Homo sapiens: one gene and its partners. The protein of the gene in region 4 purifies or fractionates together with the protein of the main gene of each other region. This does not show direct contact. Each region holds a gene or a part of one and is shown on either strand. Other genes may lie near its edges.

What was found.
Region 1: the proteins of ESD (region 4) and PITPNB fractionate together in Homo sapiens (co-fractionation; one large-scale study listed by BioGRID). This does not show direct contact.
Region 2: the proteins of ESD (region 4) and DIAPH2 purify together in Homo sapiens (affinity purification with mass spectrometry; one large-scale study listed by BioGRID and IntAct). This does not show direct contact.
Region 3: the proteins of ESD (region 4) and ACADM purify together in Homo sapiens (affinity purification with mass spectrometry; one large-scale study listed by BioGRID and IntAct). This does not show direct contact.
Region 5: the proteins of ESD (region 4) and FAXC fractionate together in Homo sapiens (co-fractionation; one large-scale study listed by BioGRID). This does not show direct contact.

What each region holds. Positions count from the first base shown.
Region 1 is NC_000022.11:27,853,257-27,856,756, forward strand, and holds part of PITPNB (phosphatidylinositol transfer protein beta isoform), read right to left. Parts: intron 1,684-3,500; coding exon 1,636-1,683; 3' UTR 1,598-1,635; intron 408-1,597; coding exon of another isoform or gene 357-407; 3' UTR 1-356. UniProt on the Homo sapiens protein: Catalyzes the transfer of phosphatidylinositol and phosphatidylcholine between membranes. Also catalyzes the transfer of sphingomyelin.
Region 2 is NC_000023.11:96,911,338-96,916,134, reverse strand, and holds part of DIAPH2 (protein diaphanous homolog 2), read right to left. Parts: intron 3,808-4,797; coding exon 3,733-3,807; intron 3,653-3,732; coding exon 3,583-3,652; intron 1-3,582. UniProt on the Homo sapiens protein: Could be involved in oogenesis. Involved in the regulation of endosome dynamics.
Region 3 is NC_000001.11:75,755,187-75,759,983, reverse strand, and holds part of ACADM (medium-chain specific acyl-CoA dehydrogenase, mitochondrial isoform a precursor), read right to left. Parts: intron 1-4,797. UniProt on the Homo sapiens protein: Medium-chain specific acyl-CoA dehydrogenase is one of the acyl-CoA dehydrogenases that catalyze the first step of mitochondrial fatty acid beta-oxidation, an aerobic process breaking down fatty acids into acetyl-CoA and allowing the production of energy from fats.
Region 4 is NC_000013.11:46,789,874-46,794,670, reverse strand, and holds part of ESD (S-formylglutathione hydrolase), read left to right. Parts: intron 1-1,226; 5' UTR 1,227-1,274; intron 1,275-3,250; 5' UTR 3,251-3,257; coding exon 3,258-3,325; intron 3,326-4,797.
Region 5 is NC_000006.12:99,339,116-99,343,912, forward strand, and holds part of FAXC (failed axon connections homolog), read right to left. Parts: intron 3,919-4,797; coding exon 3,783-3,918; intron 1-3,782. UniProt on the Homo sapiens protein: May play a role in axonal development.

The DNA of each region.
Region 1 (3,500 bases), on a different chromosome or scaffold from region 4:
AACATACCAGCTAGTATTACATTGCAGTCAATTTGTCCATTAATGGTATTACTCTGATAATTATTAAAATCTGTTCCAGGTATATATATTGAAAATATTTTCTTTTGCATTCTTGCTGAAGATAGGTACAGTACTTTGGAGAAATTGTACTAATCCCTTCAGTATGTCTGTATGTACATATATACACAAGTGTGTGTATCTGGATCTGTAGCTCTACATGCGCTTTATATACAGCTACAGACATATGCACACATACATATATACACACGTGGTTGAGAACCTGTGCATGTGTGTGTATCATCACAAGCACACATCTGGGAAACGTCAACACTGCAAGATACTGGTCAGATTCTTCTTCACTCATCACTGGCTGCGCTTGTTCCCCTCACTTGACCTTGATTACGTAACTGTAAGAAAAGTGAAAGACAGTGCAAAATGTGTTAAAATACAGAGACAGGAAATGTTAGCAGCTCGTCACACACACTCTCCAAATGCATCAAAACTTTTGGCAGAAAATGTACCCCAACTACTGCATCTTACAATTTTCATCTGTTCAAAAAGATTTTGGTCTTACTACTAATGCCACAATATATTGTCTCATCAGAGGGGAAAATAAAGTCGAGGCAGAAATAAATCACAAAAACTTAGGAGAGTTTAACAAAAGTAACAATAACTTAAATTTTTTTTTTTTTAATGAACATGGAATTTAAAAGTGTTTGGGGGGAATCTTGGAAGAGTTACTTCATTCTTATTTGGCACAACTAGCTTTTCTCACAACTGAACATTTCATTCATCCCAATGTTCAAAAATTAAAGAGCAGGTAGCTCATGTGGGGCAGCAAAGAACCACAGTGGAGGGAGGGGAGTGCTACATCTCGTTCTCTTTATAATAAACATTATAGTTCAGTATAAACAAATGATGACAGCACACTGTTGATTTTTGTTTACTCACACTGGTTTCAATTTGTGAGGGAGATTTTGATTTTTTTTTTTTTGCATCTCTGGGAAAATTTGTTATATGGGCATATAATGTGTTAGAGAAATAAGACCACAAAAATGGTTCACACCATAAATTAAAACTAAAGTGCATTTACGCAGAGTAAAGCTAACTGTAACAACTGAAGACGAAATATCAAGGAAGACTTTCTGGTGCACAGAAAATATTGCAGCCAAAATAAATTATTGAGGTTGGCTCGTATGGTATGGGATAGAGGATCTTTATTTGATCTCAAGTGATTTTGCATATTTCCTTACTAACCACAAATGGTTCTACAAAGAACCAGGTCAATTAACTCAGTATTGAAAAATCAGCTGGCTTCCAGGACAATGTGCTACATGATGAGTAACAGCACCTGGCAGCTGGGTTCTAACCCATAACACTAAAAACTAACCCAGGATTACTAAATTCAACCTGGTCCACAGGTAAAATTTTTAAAGACTATTAATAAGTGTTCACTATTAATTTCTAAAATATTTATCTTTTAAATTCTAAAAATAAAACCACATTTAACACTTAGAGCTTCTGCTCAGCAAGTTAACTGCCCATCACCAAAAAGGTACAGGTTTCGAAACATCTTTTTACCCAGGTCTTCACTTACACAGTTTGACATTGTCTCTGACCCTACAGGGGACTCATCTAGACATCAGCAGCCGACGTGCCTCGAACGGAACCCCTCTTACGCATCTAAACGTAAAATAAAATTGTGAGCTGCTGAAATCAGACTCTAAATAGGGGTTAGTAAGCAAGGGGAGAAAAAAGATCTAGAAGAGATTATGAAGTGATGTTCATAACCATATCCACATTAAGAATGAAGTTCTGTGGCCCCTCAAATAACCTTGGTTTGAAGACATTCTTGCAAAAGGCTTTTCTTAGCACAAAAAAGGTTTATCTATCCTTAACTGTAAAAAACAAAAGCCTGCAGACTGATAAAAAATTATCAAAAACAGCCAATGGGTAAACAAATTGTTTGCCAATATAATGTGAGAAAATACCCCAAGGGTCTGGTCCATATTTGCATAGTCCCTAGGCCAGACAAGCAAGCCATGAGGGTGTGGGCCACACCTCTTTGCTGCTTCTGAGAACAGGGTCTCTCAGTGGAGTCCTTTAAAGGAAGTTTACTGAAAGGAGGGAGAATGAAAGGGAGAAAAGGCAAGGAGGGAGAATGAAAGGGAGAAAAGGCAAGCACAGAAACAATGTATGGCAAACCATGAAGGGCACACAGATGTATTAGAAAGGACAGGCATTCATAACAATAGCCTCCAGACAAGTGACACCACTCAATGAGAAAACAAAAAACGAAATGAACAGAAAACAAACAAATGCAATAAATACGTTAAAACTCAACACATCCTCACCCCCACCCCGGAACCGGAGGTGCCAGTTAAGAACAAACAGGTAAAATGTTTACCTAAAGTCCTCCTTCAGCTGCTGAGCCTCAACTCCAGGGCAGTTCCCTGCAGATCATAGGCAGGGGCATTCCTCGTGTGCCTAACCTCTCAAGATGCTAGTTCTCTCCAGGGCCAAAACCCATTTGAAAGAAATCCAATTCTTAAAATATTTGTGAATTAAGAGCATTATAATGTCATTAAAATCTATCATCAGGTGTCAGGGGTCAGGACCTCAAGGAAAAAGAAATTTCTGCGTGTGAAGAGGACTCTAAAATGGGATGCCTCTTCAGGAGGCAGGTGCTTTCTGGGTAGGCATTCTTGGCCTGCAGGCTTGATGCTGCCCAGATTCTGAGGATGCTTTCACAAAGCCACCATTAGGACTCAAAGCAGCAGCATCTTGATTCTGTGTGTGGAACCAAGCACTCCCCAATGACCTACAGCAAAATAACTTAAATGGGATTCAACGTTAAGATGCACCACTTAATGGTGAAATTTGTCTTAAAATGTTTTTGAGATATTTGACAAAGCAACTGCTATGTACCCTCACTCTGAACCAATGATAGATTTTCCACCAGCTTTATGAGGGGGTTAATCAGTTTCAGCAATGTGGGTATAAGAATGGTGACACTAAGGAATTGGGCTTTTACTTGTCTATCTTACACCTTCTTCTCGAGTGCAATTCCCAACTCACAAATAACTGATCTGCATGGAGCAGCAGCTGCACCTGCAGGCCCACTGCCATAGGTGAGAGCAAGAGTCACCAGCTCCACAGCGGAGGGTCACAGCGTGTTGAGGCTGGGACCATTCTGTGTTCAGGTATCGTGAGGCTGAGGACTTGTTAGAGAAGCAAGAGCACTTCCCTGGGGGAAGAAATCTCAGTCAAGTTCTGTCCAAGGGGTCCAGAGATAGGTAGGGTTTAGAGTCCAAACCAGATAGGGCTTATCACCTGGTCAATGGTAACTACTCTTCCCCATGTGACACACAGTTCTTCAGCATAAAAATTAAAAACTGAGAGAAGGGCTCTTTCCCAAGGGTTTGAGCTGTTGGTAAATCCTTGTAGGAAATGCCAGTGCTGCATCATGGGCTTAGCGTGTTTGGGTGTCTCTTGCTGCT
Region 2 (4,797 bases), on a different chromosome or scaffold from region 4:
CTGATATGATTTTCTAAAGTAAGATTCTACTTATGTCACTGGGTCTCCCTGGAGATGTCTGGAATTCGTGGTTAAATTGTCCAATATGTTTGTATGAAAAATTAAGGTGAAGAAAAAGAGAAATTTTTTTTAAAAGGCTCTTTTGAATACTATATGCCAGTATAAGCCTCAGTATGGATATTCCCATGCCTTCTCTCTCTTATCCTCCCTGATTCAGACAGCTGTGCTGCACTACAAAAGCTGTGAACCTAAAGAAATGGCACCTGGGTTTTATTAAGTGTCACAAGTCAACTAAGGAGAGAAAACACCATTTTCATTTATTTTCTAAGCATGAATATGTGTGTGCATGCGTGTGCATGCACGCACTTAATAAATAAGTAAAGAAATTCTAATGAAAGTCTAAAACTTGAGTTTTCATTACATTAAGAAAGCAATATATTATTTTATCTTTGTCCCACAAAGTATTTTTCAGATTTCTTATAAAATATTTTTGCTTCATTTTACAGTCTAATGGTGAAATTGGATATTTCATCGGAGCAAAATTTCCATTTCAGCTAAACTTCAGTTAATTACCAACCATATGAATAGTTCCATCAGCCCTAATTTAATTTCTAAAAGAACTCCGAGTGGCAGATGGGGAACATAGCTAAAGCTCTTAAATGTGAGTTTATCACAGGTCATAATAAATAGGAAAATATATGGAGATAAGACCAAAAAAAAAAAGAAAATGCAAGAAACAAGTCTTGAAAGAAGCAACAAAAACAAAATAGATAAGTATGTATAAAGGTGGCCAGTAGATGATTAAAAGTAATGAATATTAGTGAAAAACACATTTGCAAAACTGAGAGACAATGACCACGCAATTACCAAACTTAATAGCTTTATGAGTCATTGAGACTGAGAGTGAAATCATTAGGTTTTAAAAATTTTACTTAATGTTTATAAGTAGTTTTTAATATATAGAGACACATCAAAAATAAAAAAGAAGACATGAAAAATATATCTGGAAAATCATTAATCCAAACATCAGAGCAATATTATAGTACTGGAAGTTAAGAAACAATGGGTTGCTTTTTATGATCCTATTGTTACATGTATTGGATAAAAGAAAGGAGTTTTTGAAGTAGGTAATCTAAACTCCATGGGGCCAAAAAATTTGATGTGTAAGTCATTTTGGATAAAAGCTTAATTCCTTGATCTGGACAATTTATTCCAACATGAAGTGAAAAGATCACTGCATATTTTCTATTCTGAAGGCATATTTTATGCCTATTGTTTCACATGTCTATAATTCAAAAGATCCATTAATCCATGCTCTGAGCACCTATGTGCAAGACATTAACGTGGCCTAACTAAAAACATCAATTTCGAATAATCTAAGTCAAATCATTATGCTTTCCGAAACTGCCAAACTCTTAAGAAACTAAATGTTGACAAATCAAAGTATGTTCTGTTAAAAAAAAAAAGGGCTCTATAAGAATCTTACTATTATGACTCTCTCTAGTGACTGTCCTGATTAAAATTACTTAGCATCCTGAAAAGCCACGACAATTGACAACATGAGTCAATAAGAATTTAGAACAAAGTGTCCTATAGCTAAATTTACAGATGAGGGGACTGATACTCAGAGAGGTCAAGTAATTTTCCAAAGGCCACACAACTTATTAGGAACAAAGCATGAACTATATATATCTCCTGAATTCTAGAACTGTGTTATCTTTCCATTATGTCATTGTTTCCCTCAATTGACGAAAGAGATCTATCTTGAGCTGTGAAGAAGCAATGCTCATTATTTCCTTGTTGGGCATCAGATTCTGTTTAACTTTGTAGCCAAAGACTAAGAGCCCAGATTTTGAGAAAATCTGTACTAGTAGTGATGGGAATATTTCTGTAAGAAACTTCCAGAAACAGTACAACTAGCATATTCAGGAGTCTCATGTCCACTAGCAAGCATTCATTGCATATGCTCATACAGTAACATTCTTTGCTGATACATGTATGTATAATATATAAATACTTATATGTATTTCCATATGCTTGAGACTGTCTATAGATTAATATATAATCTTATTGCATTGGTTATTAATAGCCATATTTTACATTTGGCAAACTTCTACTTGTTGTTGTAATTATTTCTATTATCTATTTTGAGATTATTAAAATACTATGTAAAGGGAATTAGGTAATTAAGTGAATTAGTCAATAGTATTTTATCTATAGGTATGAAGAGGTCATTTCTAAGACAGTAAAAAAAATAGTTTATAGAAAAAATACTGTAACTTCATAACCTGAGTAAAGTCTATTTTTAGAAGAAAAATTATTGTCTAAAATTCACAGGGTCCCTTATAATACAACTAGTATTATACATATACATAAAAAGCCCTGCAATTTTTCAGAGATGTCTTATATGTATGTAAACTTGCTGACATTAATAAAACATAAAAGAAAGAGAAATCTCAATCTTACAATGTTCTTAGCAAATAAGTCAACCCATCCCTATAATTTTCCTTTTCAATAGAACAGAAATTCTCTGTGTGGAAACATATTCAACAAACGACATTTAAATTTTCCTACTACCATTAAAGAAAAAGCATTATTACCAAAATTGGGAACAACACTAATTCATTTGCATGATTTCAAAAACCCACCAATAAATATTTTGTGAAGCAAAGTATAACTTTCATGTAAGTATTACTTAAATATTATAAGGATTTACATCATAAAGACCCTTTTGTAAACTGAACAAGCACTCACTATTTTGTTCATTTCTTTCTTTTTGTTATGTTTTCTGAACATTTAGTATACTATAAAATCAAAAAGACCTCTGTTCACATGAAAGAAATTATTGGAGGAATAAACAGAATAAGAATCAGACACAGCATTTCTAAATTATAGACAAGAGTCAAATACACTTTTTCCAATCATTTTTTTTGTTTGTTTCATTGACTAGCTCACCCTCCTGAGGAAATTAGCAGCATAGACAATGGAAAGTACTGTTTTATCTATCTTCCCTATATGAAAGCAATATATTTGAATAGAAGAAACATTGGAATAGGGCTCCATTTTTTAAAAGATTTAGATCTACAGAAGTTATATCATCCCTGAAATCCTCTGGATGCTGTGAGGACTTCTTTGGTTAAAATGAAATATCAGCATAGAAATAAAAAAAAAAAAATCGAGAAAACTAACAATAGCTCACATTTTGGAAAATTAAACATCAAATTTATCTTTTATATATGGTTTCAAATGTGTATTTAACCTCACTGTAAAACTTTATAAACACTTATTATTTATAAGCCTGTAATAACTAGTCTACAATTAATTAGTACAGCAGAAACATAAGTAAAAAATAGGTACGGGGTGGGGAAGATGATGAGGGAAAAGAGTTAATGCATGCCGGGTTTATTATTTAGGTTGATGGGTCGATTTGTGCATCAAACCACCATGGCACATGTTCGCCTATATACATGTACCCTGGAAATTAAAAAAAATAATAAAAAAATATTTTGTTCATTTCATACTTTCATAGTGTTGGGCAAGTTCCCACCTTTTGTGACAGGGGCAGAAATAAATACTACTTACCTTATTATTCATAAATGCTTTGAGGCATTGAATAAGTTTATACTGATTCTTCTTGTCAATATTTTCTTGCCTAAATAAAAGAAAAATGTATATTATGTTGTGCTGAAACATTTTCCCTTTGGTGATTTTAATTTCAGTGTTTATTCTTACTGTTTTTTGTCCAGAAGCTTTTCCAGCTCATCCAATAAGAGTCCAAGACCTTCATGGCCAAAGTTGTTAACCCAGCTGAGAAATAAACAAAAAATTAGATGTATAAGTAAGTTAGTAATTTTAAAACATTAAATATCCAAAATAAAATTTTAATTTTCAAATCTGATAATTCTGTCTCAATATTGCTTGTCATTATTTTTTCAATTCCCACTGCTTCAAGTATTGACTCTATGAGGATGACTCAGTGATCTTTGCCTCAATCCTAGACTTCTCCACATTTTAGATTGCCCATTACACAGCACTGCCTTGGTTGTTTCACCAGCATGACATACTTAAGCATGAATTCACAAGCTGAATTCATCTTCCTCTGTCTCCATACCCCTAAGTCAACTTATCTTCCACTCTTTGATACTTTATTAATAACATCACTACCCTTTTAATTCTTCAGACTTGAAATACTGGCATAATTATTTGATGACCCATTTCTTTCACCTTTGCATTTATTCTATTTATTCAGTCAACAAATATTTGTCGAGTGTCTACAAAGTTCCAAGCATGTTCTAGGTGAGAGAGATACATAACAAGCAACAAAACTAAGCAACTAGCCTCATGGACTTTACTATCTAGAGATAGGGAGACAGTGAACAAATAACTAACTATATAATAAATGTAATAATTGCTTTGATGCAATGAAGAAAAATAAACCTTGGAAAATAGAATGAAAGGAGTGGCAGGCTGCTATTTTTCATTGTGTGATCAGGAAAGATTCTTTGATAAGGTTAGGTATTTCAGCAGAACTCTGAAAGTGAGGACTTTCCAAGTAGAAGGATTAAGGGCAAATTGGGTCATGAGGCATTAGCTAGTGTGTTTAGAATGTTCCAGGAACTGTGAGGAGACCCATGTGGCAGGAGCTGAGTACGCAGGTTTAGGAGATTGGCTGGACATAAATTCTCCTGTGTGGCAGAAGGCTGAAACACTGCTAATGTAGAGCATTATTCACAAATATTCTACTTCTACTTCTACTTCTACTTCTAGAATGCCTCCTCCAAATGGCCCCTTTCTTCC
Region 3 (4,797 bases), on a different chromosome or scaffold from region 4:
GGGACTTTCTAGAAGAAATTGCTGGCTGGGCACAGTGGCTTACACCTGTAATCCCAGCACTTTGAGAGGCCGAGGCGGGCAGATCACCTGAGGTTGGGAGTTTGAGACGAGCCTGACCAACATGGATAAACCCCGTCTCTACTAAAAATACAAAATTAGCCAGGCATGGTGGCACATGCTTGTAATACCAGCTACTCAGGAGGCTGAGGCAGAAGAATCGCTTAAACCTGGGAGGTGGAGGTTGTGGTGAGCCAAGATCACACCATTGCACTCCAGCCTGGGCAACAAAAGCAAAACTCTGTCTCAAAAAAAAAAAAAAAAAAAAAAGAAAGTTGCTACAGATAGAGAAAAATAATGTGGCACTGTATCAGATACCAAGACAGAGGAAAGGACAACTAAAAGATGCTTCTTAGACTCTAGAGGCTCAGAATTAAATAGAAGACATAAAACAAATACTTTCAATAAGGGATAGTAAGTGCTCTATGAGTTAGTTATATGGCCAAGATATGTTATAGGATGGAAATATGTTCCTGTTCCCTGGCATACAACTCCTAAATTCCTTGGGATCTCCAACGTGCTGTCTTTTGTCTGCTAGGTTCAGCGTGGTGCTGGTCACTGGAAAGACGATGGCAGGATTAGAGGGTTGGGAGTTTCAGCCCCAACCCTACAACCTCCAGGGAGGGGAGAGGGGCTACAAGTCAAGTTAAATCATCAATGACCAATGGTTTAATTAATCATGCCTATGTAATGAAGCCTCCATGAACACCCAAGAGTGTGTCCAGAGTTGGTTCCTTCCAGTGGGTTCTTGGTCTTGCTGACTTCAAGAATGAAGCCACAGACCTTCGCGGTGTTACAGCTCTTAAAGATGGTGTGTCTGGAGTTTGTTCCTTCAGATGTGTCCAGAGTTTCTTCCTTCCAGTGGGTTCGTGGTCTTGCTGACTTCAGGAATGAAGCCGCGGACCTCCGTGGCAAGTGTTACAGCTCTTAAAGGTGGTGTGGACCCAAAGAGTAAGCAGCAGCAAGATTTATTGTGAAGAGCAAAAGAACAAAGCTTCCACAGCGTGGAAAGGGACCAAAGCAGGTTGCCGCTGCAGGCTGGGGTGGCCAGTTTTTATTCCCTTATTTGTCCCCACCCATATCCTGCTGATTGGTCCATTTTACAGAGTGCTGGTTGGTCCATTTTACAGAGTGCTGACTGGTGCATTTACAATCCTTTAGCTAGACACAGAGCGCTGATTCGTGCATTTTTACACAGTGCTGATTGGTGAGTTTACAATCCTTTAGCTAGACACAGCACTGATTGGTGCATTTTTACAGAGCACTGATTGGTGTGTTTACAATCCTTTAGCTAGACAGAGAGTGCTGATTAGTGCATTTTTACAGAGTGCTGATTGGTGTGTTTACAATCATCTAGCTAGACAGACAAGTCCTCCAAGTCCCCACTCGACCCAGGAAGTCCAGCTGGCTTCACCTCTCAAGAGGACAGGGTTTGGAGAGCTTCCAGAGGTTCCTACAGGGTGAGATTCCCAGGGAGAGCATGGAAGCCATATGCATCTTCCCTCATACCTTACCCTGCACATCTCTTCATCTGTATCCTTTAAAATATCCTTCCTGGCTGGGCGTGGTGGCTCACACCTGTAATCCCAGCACTTTGGGACGCCAAGGTGGGTGGATCACCTGAGGTCAGGAGTTTGAGACCAGCCTGGCCAACATGATGAAACCCTGTCTCTACTTAAAAAACAAACAAACAAAAAAAGGCCAGGCATGGTGGCAGGTGCCTGTAATCCCAGCTATGTGGGAGGCTGAGGGAGGAGAATCAATTGAACCCAGGAGGCAGAGGTTGCAGTGAGCCAAGATTACGCCATTACACTCCAGCCTGGGCAACAAGAGGGAGACTCTGTATGAAAAAAATAATAATTAAAAAAAAAGTAAAAAAATTAGATATCCTTCCTAATAAACTGGTAAATGTGTTTCCCTGAGTTCTGTGAGCTGCTTTAGCAAATTACTGGAATTCACAGATGAGGTCATGGGAACCCCAACTTGAAGCCAGTCAGCCAGAAGTTCTGGAGTCCAGGACTTGCAACTAGGGGAAAAGAAGGGGCAGTCTTGTGAGACTAAGCCTGTGGGATCTGATGCTATCTCTGGGTAGGTAGTGTCAGAACTAAGTTGGAGGATACCCAGCTAGTGTCTGTTGCTTGGTGTGGGTGGGAAATCCTCCTACATCTTTGGTCATAGAAGTCTTTATAGCAGCATGATTTATAATCCTTTGGGTATATACCCAGCAATGGGATTGCTGGGTCAAATGGCATTTCTAGTTCTAGATCCTTGAGAAATTGCCACACTGTCTTCCACAATGGTTGAACTAGTTTACAGTCCCACCAACAGTGTAAAAGTATTCCTATTTCTCCACATCCTCTCCAGCACCTGTTGTTTCCTGACTTTTTAATGATTGCCATTCTAAATGATATGAGATGGTATCTCATTGTGGTTTTGATTTGCATTTCTCTGATGGCCAGTGATGATGAGCATTTTTTCATGTGTCTGTTGGATGCATAAATGTCTTCTTTTGAGAAGTGTCTGTTCATATCCTTCACCCACTTTTTGATAGGGTTGATTTTTTTCTTGTAAATTTGTTTGAGTTCATTGTAGATTCTGGATATTAGCCCTTTGTCAGATGGGTAGATTATAAAAATTTTCTCCCATTCTGTAGGTTGCCTGTTCACTCTGATGGTAGTTTCTTTTGCTGTGCAGAAACTCTTGAGTTTAATTAGATCCCAATTGTCAATTTTGGCTTTTGTTTCCATTGCTTCTGGTGTTTTAGACATGAAGTCCTTGCCCATGTCTATGTCCTGAATGGTACTGCCTAGGTTTTCTTCTAGGGTTCTTATGGTTTTAGGTCTAACATTTAAGTCTTTAATCCATCTTGAATTAATTTTTATATAAGGTAAGGAAGGGATCCAGTTTCAGCTTTCTACATATGGCTAGCCAGTTTTCCCAGCACCATTTATTAAATAGGGAATCCTTCCCCCATTTCTTGTGTTTGTCAGGTTTGTCAAAGATCAGATGGTTGTAGACATGTGGTATTATTTCCAAGGGCTCTATTCTGTTCCATTTGTCTATATATCTGTTTTGGTACCAGTACCATGCTGTTTTGGTTACTGTAGCCTTGTAGTATAGTTTGAAGTCAGGTAGCATGATGCATCCATCTTTGTTGTTTTGGCTTAGGATTGTCTGGGCAATGTGGGCTTTTTTGGTTCCATATGAACTTTAAAGTAGTTTTTTCCAATTCTGTGAAGAAAGTCATTGGTAGCTTGAAGGGGATGGCACTGAATCTATAAATTACCTTGGGCAATATGGCCATTTTCACGATATTGATTCTTCCTACCCATGAGCATGGAATGTTCTTCCACTTGTTTGTGTCCTCTTTTATTTCATTGAGTGGTGGTTTGTGGTTCTCCTTGAAGAGGTCCTTCACATCCCTTGTAAGTTGTATTCCTAGGTATTTTATTCTCTTTGAAGCAATTGTGAATGGGAGTTCACTCATGATTTGGCTCTCTGTGTGTTGTTGGTGTATAGGAATGCTTGTGATTTTTGCACATTGATTTTGTATCCAGAGACTTTGCTGAAGTTGCTTATCTGCTTAAGGAGATTTTGGGATGATATGATGGGGTTTTCTAAATAAACAATCATGACATGTGCAAACAGGGACAATTTGACTTCCTCTTTTCCTAACTGAATACCCTTTATTTCCTTCTCTTGCCTGACTGCCCTGGCCAGAGCTTCCAACACTATGTTGAAGAGGAGTGGTGAGAGAAGGTATCCCTGTCTTGTGCCAGTTTTCAAAGGGAATTCTTCCAGATTTTGCCCATTCAGTATGATATTGGCTGTGGGTTTGTCATAAATAGCTATTATTTTGAGATACATTCCATCAATACCTAGTTTATTGAGTTTTTAGCATGAAGAACTGTTGAATTTTGCTGAAGGCCTTTTCTGCATCTATTGAGATAATCATAAGTTTTTGTCGTTGGTTCTGTATGTGATGGATTACATTTATTGATTCAAGGTATGTTGAATCAGCCTTGCATCCCAGGGAGAAAGCTGACTTGATCGTGGTGGATAAGCTTTTTGATGTGCTGCTGGATTCAGTTTGCCAGTATCCTCCTTTAGCTCGGAGAAGTTTGTTATTACCAATCATCTGAAGCCTTCTTCTCTCAACTCGTCATTCTCCATCCAGCTTTCTTCCGTTGCTGGCGAGGAGCTGCATTCCTTTGGAGGAGAAGAGGCACTCTTGATTTGTAGAATTTTCAGCTTTTCTGCTCTGGTTTCTCCCCATCTTTGTGGGTTTATCTACCTTTGGTCTTTGGTGATGGTGACGTACAGATGCGGTTTTGGTGTGAATGTCCTTTCTGTTTGTTAGTTTTCCTTCTATCAGTCAGGACCCTCAGCTGCAGGTCTGTTGGAGTTTGCTGGAGGTCCACTCCAGACCCTCTTTGCCTGGGTATCACCAGCAGAGGCTGCAGAACTGCAAATATTGCAGAATGACAAACATTGCTGCCTGATTGTTCCTCTGGAAGCTTCGTCTCAGAGGGGCACCCGGACGTATGAGGTGTCAATCGGCCCCTACTGGGAGGTCTCTCCCAGTTAGGCTACTCAGGGGTCAGGGACCCACTTGAGGAGGCAGTCTGTCTGTTCTCAGATCTCAAACTCCATTCTGGGAGGACCACTACTCTCTTCAAAGCTTTCAGACAGGGAGGTTTAAGTCTGCAGAAGTTTCTGCTGCCTTTTGTTCAGCTATGC
Region 4 (4,797 bases):
TCAAAATCCAAGGAATCTGAGAGAATGGGAACAAAAAAACACATGTAGAGATTTATGGAAAACTTGAGACACAGGGGAAGAAGGATAAAAATAGAACTCAGATTTCTGGAGGTGGATGACATTTAACTTTAATAAGTAAAGGGCCCTGTCTCTACAAAAAATTAAAAAAAAAAATATTCCAGTGTGGTACGCACCTGTAGTCCTAGCTGCTCAGGAGGCTGAGGTAGGAGAACACTTGAAGCTTGGAGTTCTAGGTTACACTGAGTCATGATTATGCAACTGTACTACAACCTGGGCCACACAGCCAAGACCCCATCTCCAAAAAATAAAAAATAAAGGGAAGAACAGTAAGGTTTGACCTTTAGGGGAATGGATGTATTATGCACTGAGAGACCCTTTCTTCTCCAAAGAATGTTGATGTTCACTAACATTTGGGAAAAATTGTGTAACTCCCACTGGCACTGTGAAATTGTTTTTCTGTTTTTGTTGTTGTTGTTGTTGTTGTTGTTTTTTGGAGGGGAAGGAGGAAGGGTGTTGTTTGGTTTTTTGGTATTCCACCCTACTCTGTCACCCTATTTCTCCCACAAAATCTGTTCTAGAACCTAAATATATATTTGTTCTAGAGCCTAAATGAAATCTACCAGATAAGTGACATGATATATACTATGTAAGTTTCCATATATATTTTTCTTACTGAATATCAGTCACTTCATCGTTCATAAGCCCACTTTTCTTATACATCCTTTCTAGTCACCCTAGTAGTAGTCCTTCAGTCCTCATCTCTTCCCTTCTTTCTCCCCATGTTACAAGTTCGACTTACAACTGAGCCAGATAGATCCATCTTCCTCTACTTACCTAGTCCCCACTCTTATTTTCTTCACTCAGGAGTTGACTACATCTCATGCTTCGAAATTACACTTGAAAACTTTGTTTATTGATTTAAAAAGATAAAAAACTTTCATAGTACTTTTACTTCAGCAGATGGTTTTGACCAAGTACCAACAAGCTTTATGGCAAAATAGGTATTAAGGTGGCCTGTGGCAAATAATTAGATTATGGGCAATTAAGGTAATTAAGTGGTGATGTGGTATCCCATCAGGGTGTACAGTCATTTACCTCAAAAGAAGAAAACATCTCTATTGAGAATGCATATGCATATAAAAGCTCTGTATAACCTTTGCTGTGAAAAGTATATCCCATTTGTAAACCATTGGTGTTTTTTTCAGAATCGCCTACCATTTGGTGCAAGCAAAAAGCAATCAGCAATTGGACAGGTAAACTTGTTTTATTGTTTATATGTTACTCTGAACATTGAATGAAAATACCACTAATAGCTTGTTTTAAAACGTGCTATTTTTCACATAGAAAAATTCTATTGAAAAATATAACCACCTATTATAATGTATCAGATATCATAGTATATCACAGTATGTCATATCTAGTTCTTAGTTTATGTCATATTTCTTGTTAAGCCTAACATATTTTTTTGATTTGTAATTAAAGATAGTTTCTAAAATGGTGGGTAGAAAAAATACTTTAAAAGCTTTGTTTTTTAAAAAATATTCTACCAACTTTTAAAAAGTGTTTTAATCTTGTTTCTTCTGGCCAAATGAAAAGCATTTGATTTTGAATTTTAAGAGCAGAGAAAACTGACAACTTGAGGTTTATTAAAATAGACGAATAGCAAAGATACAGACTCCTATGTACCAGATACGTGCTCAGTGTACCATCTTTTGCAAAGTGGATATAGTCCTTTCTAAGTTTAAGAAAATCTGGTTTCCTTGTGGAATAATGGAGCAAATAAATTTTATTTGTTGGTCTCATATATATGTATTAATATATTAAAATTAGTATCTCTCTCTATAAGTTCATTATTTAAGATAGGATTGTTAACAGTAGCTAAAGTTAATATTCAGTAACTAATAACATCTCATGGGAGTTTATTGTTTAAGAATTAATCTTTTATAGATTAAAAGCATAAAACTGAGCAGATGGTAATTTCTTTGTGTACAGTTGTAATATCATAATTCTATAGAATCAGTTATCTTAAAGTGTCTTAAAAAATGAGTATTTAAAGAACCTCTAGAGAGTCAGGACAGCATAGCAGTTAAGAGTAGGGCTTCTGATGTCAGACTTCTGGGTTCAAATCCCAGTCTTCCAAAATAAAACTATTTGGGTTTATTGAAGAAATTAGAGATAAGATTGAAACTAATTTTTTAAAGTATTTTATAAAGACATTTCCAAAATTAGCTTTTTAAGATTATTGTTATACATCTTTGAAAGAGTAATCCTAAAGCTCCAGCTGATTAGCATGTAGTAGTGCATTTCTCTGAGAAGATCACCAGGGTGGTAATACCTGTTCCTGATATCTAAAGCTTTTTCTTCAATATGTAGGACTTACTGCCTTATATTCTAATACAGTGTTTCTAGGAATAGAAAGGGAATCTTTCTTTGAGAGGTACATGTCAGAATCAGTGTGGTTTCCCTTTGCTTAATAGGCATTTATGATAAAGATAGTTTTCCAACTTTTTTCCTGTATTTATCATTAAAAGCAATAAAATATGTCATTTTACATGTAAGTTTAAAATTATTTTTACATGAAAACAAAAGATTTGTTGGACAGAAAAGAAGTTAACAGGCTTGTTTTACTTATTGGTTTGTTTTAAAAGGAGAAATAAATGTTGATCTTAAAGTTTCATATCACTTTCTCTTAAAAATTCATGGGATGAGTAATTGGATCTGGTTTAGTGTCTAGAAAAATGTGTATCACACCGTAAGTGTTCAGTAATGTTACATATTATTATTACCAAAATCATTATCACATCTTTCTTCCATTTTAAAATCAACTATAATCAGTCATACCAATTCCTTGACTACTTTGTTGCAGTTGATAGGCAGACTATTAACAATTTTTAATCTTCTAAACTAAGGTAATTAATTGGTAACTTATGTATTTTCTGCCTCTTTTAAAAATAATTTGGGGCAGTCCACCACAACGAAAAAACTTGTTAATAAATTAGTAATGATATACCAAAGTATGAAAGCTTTTAAAAGTGAGTAACAAGTGTAAATGCATGTATGAGCGTTAATCAGTTTCTTAATATTATTTACTGGAGAAAAATGTGAAAAAAAAATTCTAAGTAGAAAATAGTTGTATGTTCAGATAATTTATCTGAAGGCAATTAGTTTTGTTTCAAGTTTTTCAGTAACTAATTCTCTGGAAATTAATGAGATTACTCTTTACTAATAGGAAAAGAATGGCATTGAAGCAGATTTCCAGCAACAAGTGCTTTGGGGGATTGCAGAAAGTTTTTGAACATGACAGGTAACTATTAAGAAGATATAATTTTAGATACCTCATTCTGTTGGATTATTTTGTTCTATTTTAAAACCAATCTTTATCTAGATATTATAGTACCTCATTTTACTTTTAAACTTGCTTACTCTCTTTCTGTGGTTATGTATTTGACAATTCTACCAGACTTAATTAACTGTGGATGTGATTGTGTGAGGTAGAGCCTTAACAGAGAAGTATCTTCAAGCTTTGACATGATGCTCTTCTGAAACTTTATGAAAATGCTTATGTTGCCAGTAAAAATTCTGAAAACATTTTCTTTGAGGATCTCTAAGTGTAGGAAAAACACCTGGACTTTTTGAGAAAGATGGCACACTAAACACATGCATTTGCTTCCGCTGCCTCCAAAACTCTGACTAACATGGCATTAAGTAAAGAGATTAAACACACACGCACACATACATATACCTATAAAGGCATAAAGAAGCAGGAGACAGGAGCTAAGAATAACATTTTAGAAGCAGGAATACAAATGGAGAGGTAGTACCTGACTTAGTAAAACCTAGAAAGCTACATTCTAAACATAAGCAAGAAAACCTGAGAAATGACACAATTTATTTAAAGCCATAGTAATTGGAGGCACCAGGGACCCCTGAAAATAAGGATAAAAGTTGAGCTTAGAAAAAAGATTAATTGAAAGTCTGTTTTTAAAAGGAGATAGATCTGAGAGTGTCCCAGCTTTATGGACTGCCTCTTCCTAACTCTGGGAAAGATTGGAGGTAAGTTCTCTAGAGAAAGTAAACTGTTTGTACTGGGGAATACCAGACACAATTAGTGGGATTGTGATACTGCAAATAGATTAAGCAAAAGTTTGCACACTGAGTTTCTTCCACTAGCTTTCAAAATTTGGGGACTTAGTCTTATATCCTTTAGAAGAATTTCTTTGTGGGGAGTTTGAGTAGCCCAAAGGAAGAGATTTCAAGATACTGAGATTTGCCAACAAAGTAACCTAACCAGACCTTACAGTAAAGCAATGATTGACAACTCCACCTGTAGGCACAGTGCTTTCAACTAGATTTTTAGTGTTTCTCTCTTAAATAGGAGTGGACAGCTAAAGATCACTAGACATTTGTATAAAGTCTTTAATTTGATATGAACTTCTCTTCATATCAAAGTATAAAAGATATTGACCTCTTGACTTCATAGGATGCTATTAAAAAATATTCAAGTACATGGCCAGGTGTGGTGACTTACACCTGTAATACTAACACTTTGGGAGGCCAAGGCAGGCAGATCACCTGAGGTCAGGAGTTCGAGACCAACCTGGCCAACATGGTGAAACCCTGTCTCTACTGAAAAAAAAAAAATATATATATATATATATGTACAAAAATTAGCCAGGCATGGTTATGCACACCTGTAGTCCCAGCTACTTAGGAGGCTGAGGCAGGAGAATTGCTTGAACCTGGGAGGCAGAGGTTGCAGTGAGCTAAGATGGCACC
Region 5 (4,797 bases), on a different chromosome or scaffold from region 4:
GGAGTCAGGAGCTGGAGGAGTAATATCATTATTGGGGCAGGCAAAAGCTTGGCTGAGTGGGGAGCCCACCCCCTCCAACCTCCCAGTTGGTCTGTTACAACCTGAGGAAAATACCTCCTCCCAGTGTTGGTGCTTTATAAGAGTCTAAAGGTGAACCCCGGAGCTGCAGGAGCCATTTGGGGGAATGGCAGCAAAGCAAAAGGACCAGAGTAGTTTGGGGATGCCTGAGGCTCACCTCCTTTCTTTTTTTAAACTCCCTCAGAGGTACAGGACCTGTGGCCTGGGCTTTAGCCCTCGTCCAGTACAAATTCCCAGGCAGAGAAGTTGGCATCCCTGGTAAAAGGAGTTCTCAAACCAAAATAACTAGATAAGTACCACTACTATGAGAAGGGCAGTGCACTGAATTATACGACATGAAGCAGAATTATTGGGACAGACCAAAAAATTTAAGTAACATAATAAATATCCTCCAATGGATAAAGGAAGAGATTACTAATACAAACTGAAAGAAAACATTAAGAAGAAAAATACAAAAGTTGGAATAAGGAACACAATAGATGGGGTAAATAGCATAATGGATACAAAAACAAACAAACAACAACAACAAACACACATAGAGCAATGCAAAGGAAGCTCAGAGAGAGGAATGCTTCCAGAAAGAAGCAGAAAAGAATTCAAGTAGAGAGTAGAGAGACATAGAAAATAGAAGCAGAGTTTCCAAAATCTGGATAATAGGGAACAAGGAAGAAGAGGGAAAAGAAAAACAAACATAAAAGAAAAGGAAATATTTTAACAAAATTGATAATTAATTCTCCAGAATTCAAAAGAGATGAAAGACCTCAGATAATAAGAGTTTATAAAGGACCAAACAGGATATATAAAGACCCACACCAACACATGCCATATTGAAACTTGAGAATATTAAGATTAAATACAAATTCTAAGATAATTTAGAGAGAAAGAGAAAGAAGAATGAGATTAACATCAATTTTCTTTTTTTTTGAGACAGGGTCTCACTCTGTCTCCCAGACTAGAGTGCAGTGGCGTGATCTCGGCTCACCACAACCTCCACCTCCCCACTTCAAGCGATTCTCCTGCCTCAGCCTCCCGAGTAGCTGGGATTACAGGCACACGCCACTACCGCCCAGCTAATTTTTGTATTTTTAATAGAGATGGGGTTTCACCATGTTGGCCAGGCTGGTCTTGAACTCCTGACCTCAGACGATCCACCAGCCTCAGCCTCCCAAAGTGCTGGGATTACAGGCATGAGCCACCAGCCTGGCCTAATATTTTTAAAATATAGAAGGAAAAGAACTTTGAACATAAATTTATCAAATGTGAGAGTATAATAACTATATTCTCAGGCATGCAAAGCCACTGAAGGTTTGCCACATAAAGACTCACTCTAAAGATATTCATCAGGGAAGTTCTCAAATAAAAAGATAAATCCTTTATAATAAGATATATGGGAAATAAGGCTAGTCAAATAACATACTAAAGTTTGTTGCCTAAAAAGGATAAAAAAGAAAGGATAAGAATTGCTAAAATTCCTTTTTTTTTTTTTTTTTTTTTTTATGGAGTCTGGTTCTGTCACCCAGGCTGGAGTGCAATGGCACAATCTTGGCTCACTGCAACCTCTGCCTCCCGGGTCCAAGTACTTCTCCTGCCTCAGCCTCCCAAGTAGCTGGGATTACAGGTACACACCACCACACCTGGCTAATTTTCGTATTTTTAATAGAGATGGGGTTTCGCCATGTTGGTCAGGCTGGTCTTGAACTCCTGGCCTCAAGGGATCCATCCTCCTCGGCCTCTCAAAGTGCTAGGATTACAAGCGTGAGCCACCGTGCCCGGCCAAAAAATTCCAGAATTAAAATCTTAGACAACAGCAACACAATTGGGATCAGGGCTGGGAAGAAAGGAAGAGACCCAAGGTACACGTAAACTGCTAATGTGTTTGTATTATAACAGAATAAATACAGACTTTAATTCATTTAACAAATTAATAAGCATAAACACAAATTTGGGTCTTAAGAGTAACTACAATAACAACAAAAATATAATTTGTTTTAAATGAGAAAAAATATCTATTAGAAAGCAGGAAATGAGAAGAAATTTAAAATGAAGTATAGTAAGGAGAAAAATATTAAATAAGATATTAGAAATAAGTTCTAATAAAACAATCATTTCAATAAGTATAAATGGATTAAAGTTGCCAATTAAAAGACTCTCCAATTAGATATAAGAGAGAAATAAATACAAAAAGAGAGAGGGCGAGAAAAAGAGAGAGAGAATGAAGAAAGATATCCTAAGCAAATATGAACCAAAAGAAGGCTGGAGAATCTATCTCAATATCTGATAACACAGAATTCAAGTTTTTTAAAAAATAGGAAGAGACATCAATGGAGGATACATACTAGAAAAATAAACAAGAGTAAAAGATGTGAACTTTTATATGTACCTAACAATGTAACCTAAAATATATAAATACTCTAACATAAAGCAAGAACAGACAGAATGACAGGAAAGAGACAAATCAACAGATACACTTGAATATTTTAACATGCTCCTTTCAGACAAAAAAATAAGCAGAAATACAGAAGGTCTAAATAATACACTAAACGTGTTTAAGCAAGTAGATCTATAGAGAGCTCTCTATATCCAAACAGAGAATATGTAATTATTTTCAACATTTTAAAAAAGTAACTACAAACCAGGCTAAAGCTTCAGTGAATTCCAAGGAATCAATATCACAGAGACTATCTTCTCTGACCATCAAATTAAAAATGATAACAAAAATCAAAGCTTAAAATAGTTCCATATGGCTAGAACTTGGTTAAAAATAAAAACATAAGTGAACTTTTAAAAAAAATACATAGAATTGAATGACTATGAAAACACAGCGTGTTGACTTTGTGAGACACAGCTCAAGCATTACTCAGAGAGAAATATATACCTTTAAGTACACTCCTCTTCCTTATTTACTGCTAAAATGAACAAGTGTTTCCCTGAAAGTCACACAAACAGAACATGGAGTGCTGTGGAAAAGCTCTCACCACATACACAAATATCTACCTCGTGGCCTACTGGGCCTTCTGCCCCCAAGATTCATGAGGGACAAAATACGATGCTGTCAATAAACTAAAACCTAAAGTAAAAAACCACATCAGGCAGTGGCACACCCATCTTTGTCAAGGCTCAGTAGGCCTGTCCAAACTATTAACCAAAGCATACTTTTTTTTTTTTTTTTGAGATGGAGTCTTGCTCTGTCACCCAGACTGGAGTACAGTGGTGCAATCTCGGCTCACTGTAACCTCTGCTTCCCCGGTTCAAGTGATTCTCCTGCCTCAGCCTCCCAGGTAGCTGGGATTACAGGCGTCTGCCACTAGCCCAGCCAATTTGTGTATTTTTAGTAGAGACAGGGTTTCACCATGTTGGCCAGGCTGGCCTCAGACTCCTGACCTCAAGTGATCCGCCTGCCTTGGCCTCCCAAAGTGCTGGGATTAAAGGCGTGAACCACCGTGCCCAGCCCAAAGAATACTCTGTTAAAGAAAAATATCATGGCGCTGAATCTCTCAAAAGTTTAGACCTTTTTGATCCATCATTATCAACAGACCCTGGAATCAAGTATTTTATTTCCCTCTTACTAAGGATTAGGCACTGCTAGTTTCAGCTCCCATCCCCTCTGGCATCCACTGTGTGAGACGAAATATTCCCCCCTTTAGTTAAATACTCATCCCCTGATACTGATGTCATAAAAAGAAAACATATTTGCACACAAGTACCTGATACGGTAAGTCAGCCATCCTTAAATAAGTTTCCATCTTTAAACAGAAAGGAGATAAACTTGGAACACCATTGTTAGGTCTTGCAAACTGATGCAAAATAATAGCATCTTTAGAGTCAATCTCTTGCTGTTTCCTGTCAAAACCAAAACAGAAATAAAGTACAATCCACATGTTATCCACATTCGGTTCCCTTATTTCTTGAGAGGACCCTGCAGGGTTGTAGCTCCTCAATGAACAAGCAGATCTGTTTGTCACAGGGGCTTACATCACCCAGCACCCAGTTTGTCGAAGGGGCTTACCTCACCCAGCACTCATGGAAGCTTAGTCAAAACTCAAGAGAACCTTACAAACTCCCATGATATTACCATGACCCCACTGGCTCAGCAAAGTAACTACATAACAACCTCCTTCTGTTACCTATGGCCTCCGGGCAGCAAGAACATTTTCTAGTACTGGTCCACCTATTCTCCAGCCGGCTGTATTTACCTGCTAGGACAAGCTGGATGGATAAAAATGATATTCTGTGCTTGCTGTGTGTCACACATTGTTCTGAGGGTCTCATGGGTCTTATCTCCTTTAATCTTCATAATAACCTTATGAAGTAGGTACTACTGTTATCCACGTTTTATAGATGAGGAAATTAAGGCACAGAGGATTAACTTGCCCAAAGTCACATTGCTAGTTATGGCAGAATGGGCACTCAACCAAGAAGTCAGAGCCCATGGTTTTGGCCATTAGACTATACCATGAAACAGTCTATTCATCCATAAGACCCAGGAATAACAGTGCAGATTTGCTCTGCTATGACCCAAGTCTGTAGGGAATCTGAGACTGAAATTCTGGTCCCTCTTCCCAACTGCCCATGCCCTCACCTAACCCTTCTTTCACCTGTAATGCCATGGAACCTGCCTTCTGGATGCTCTCTCTCTAGCTCTGTCTTCCTTATTTTCTGCCTTCCCAGTATCCCCACTTTTACCACACAGCATGTATTTCAGTACCCCTGCTTTTCCCC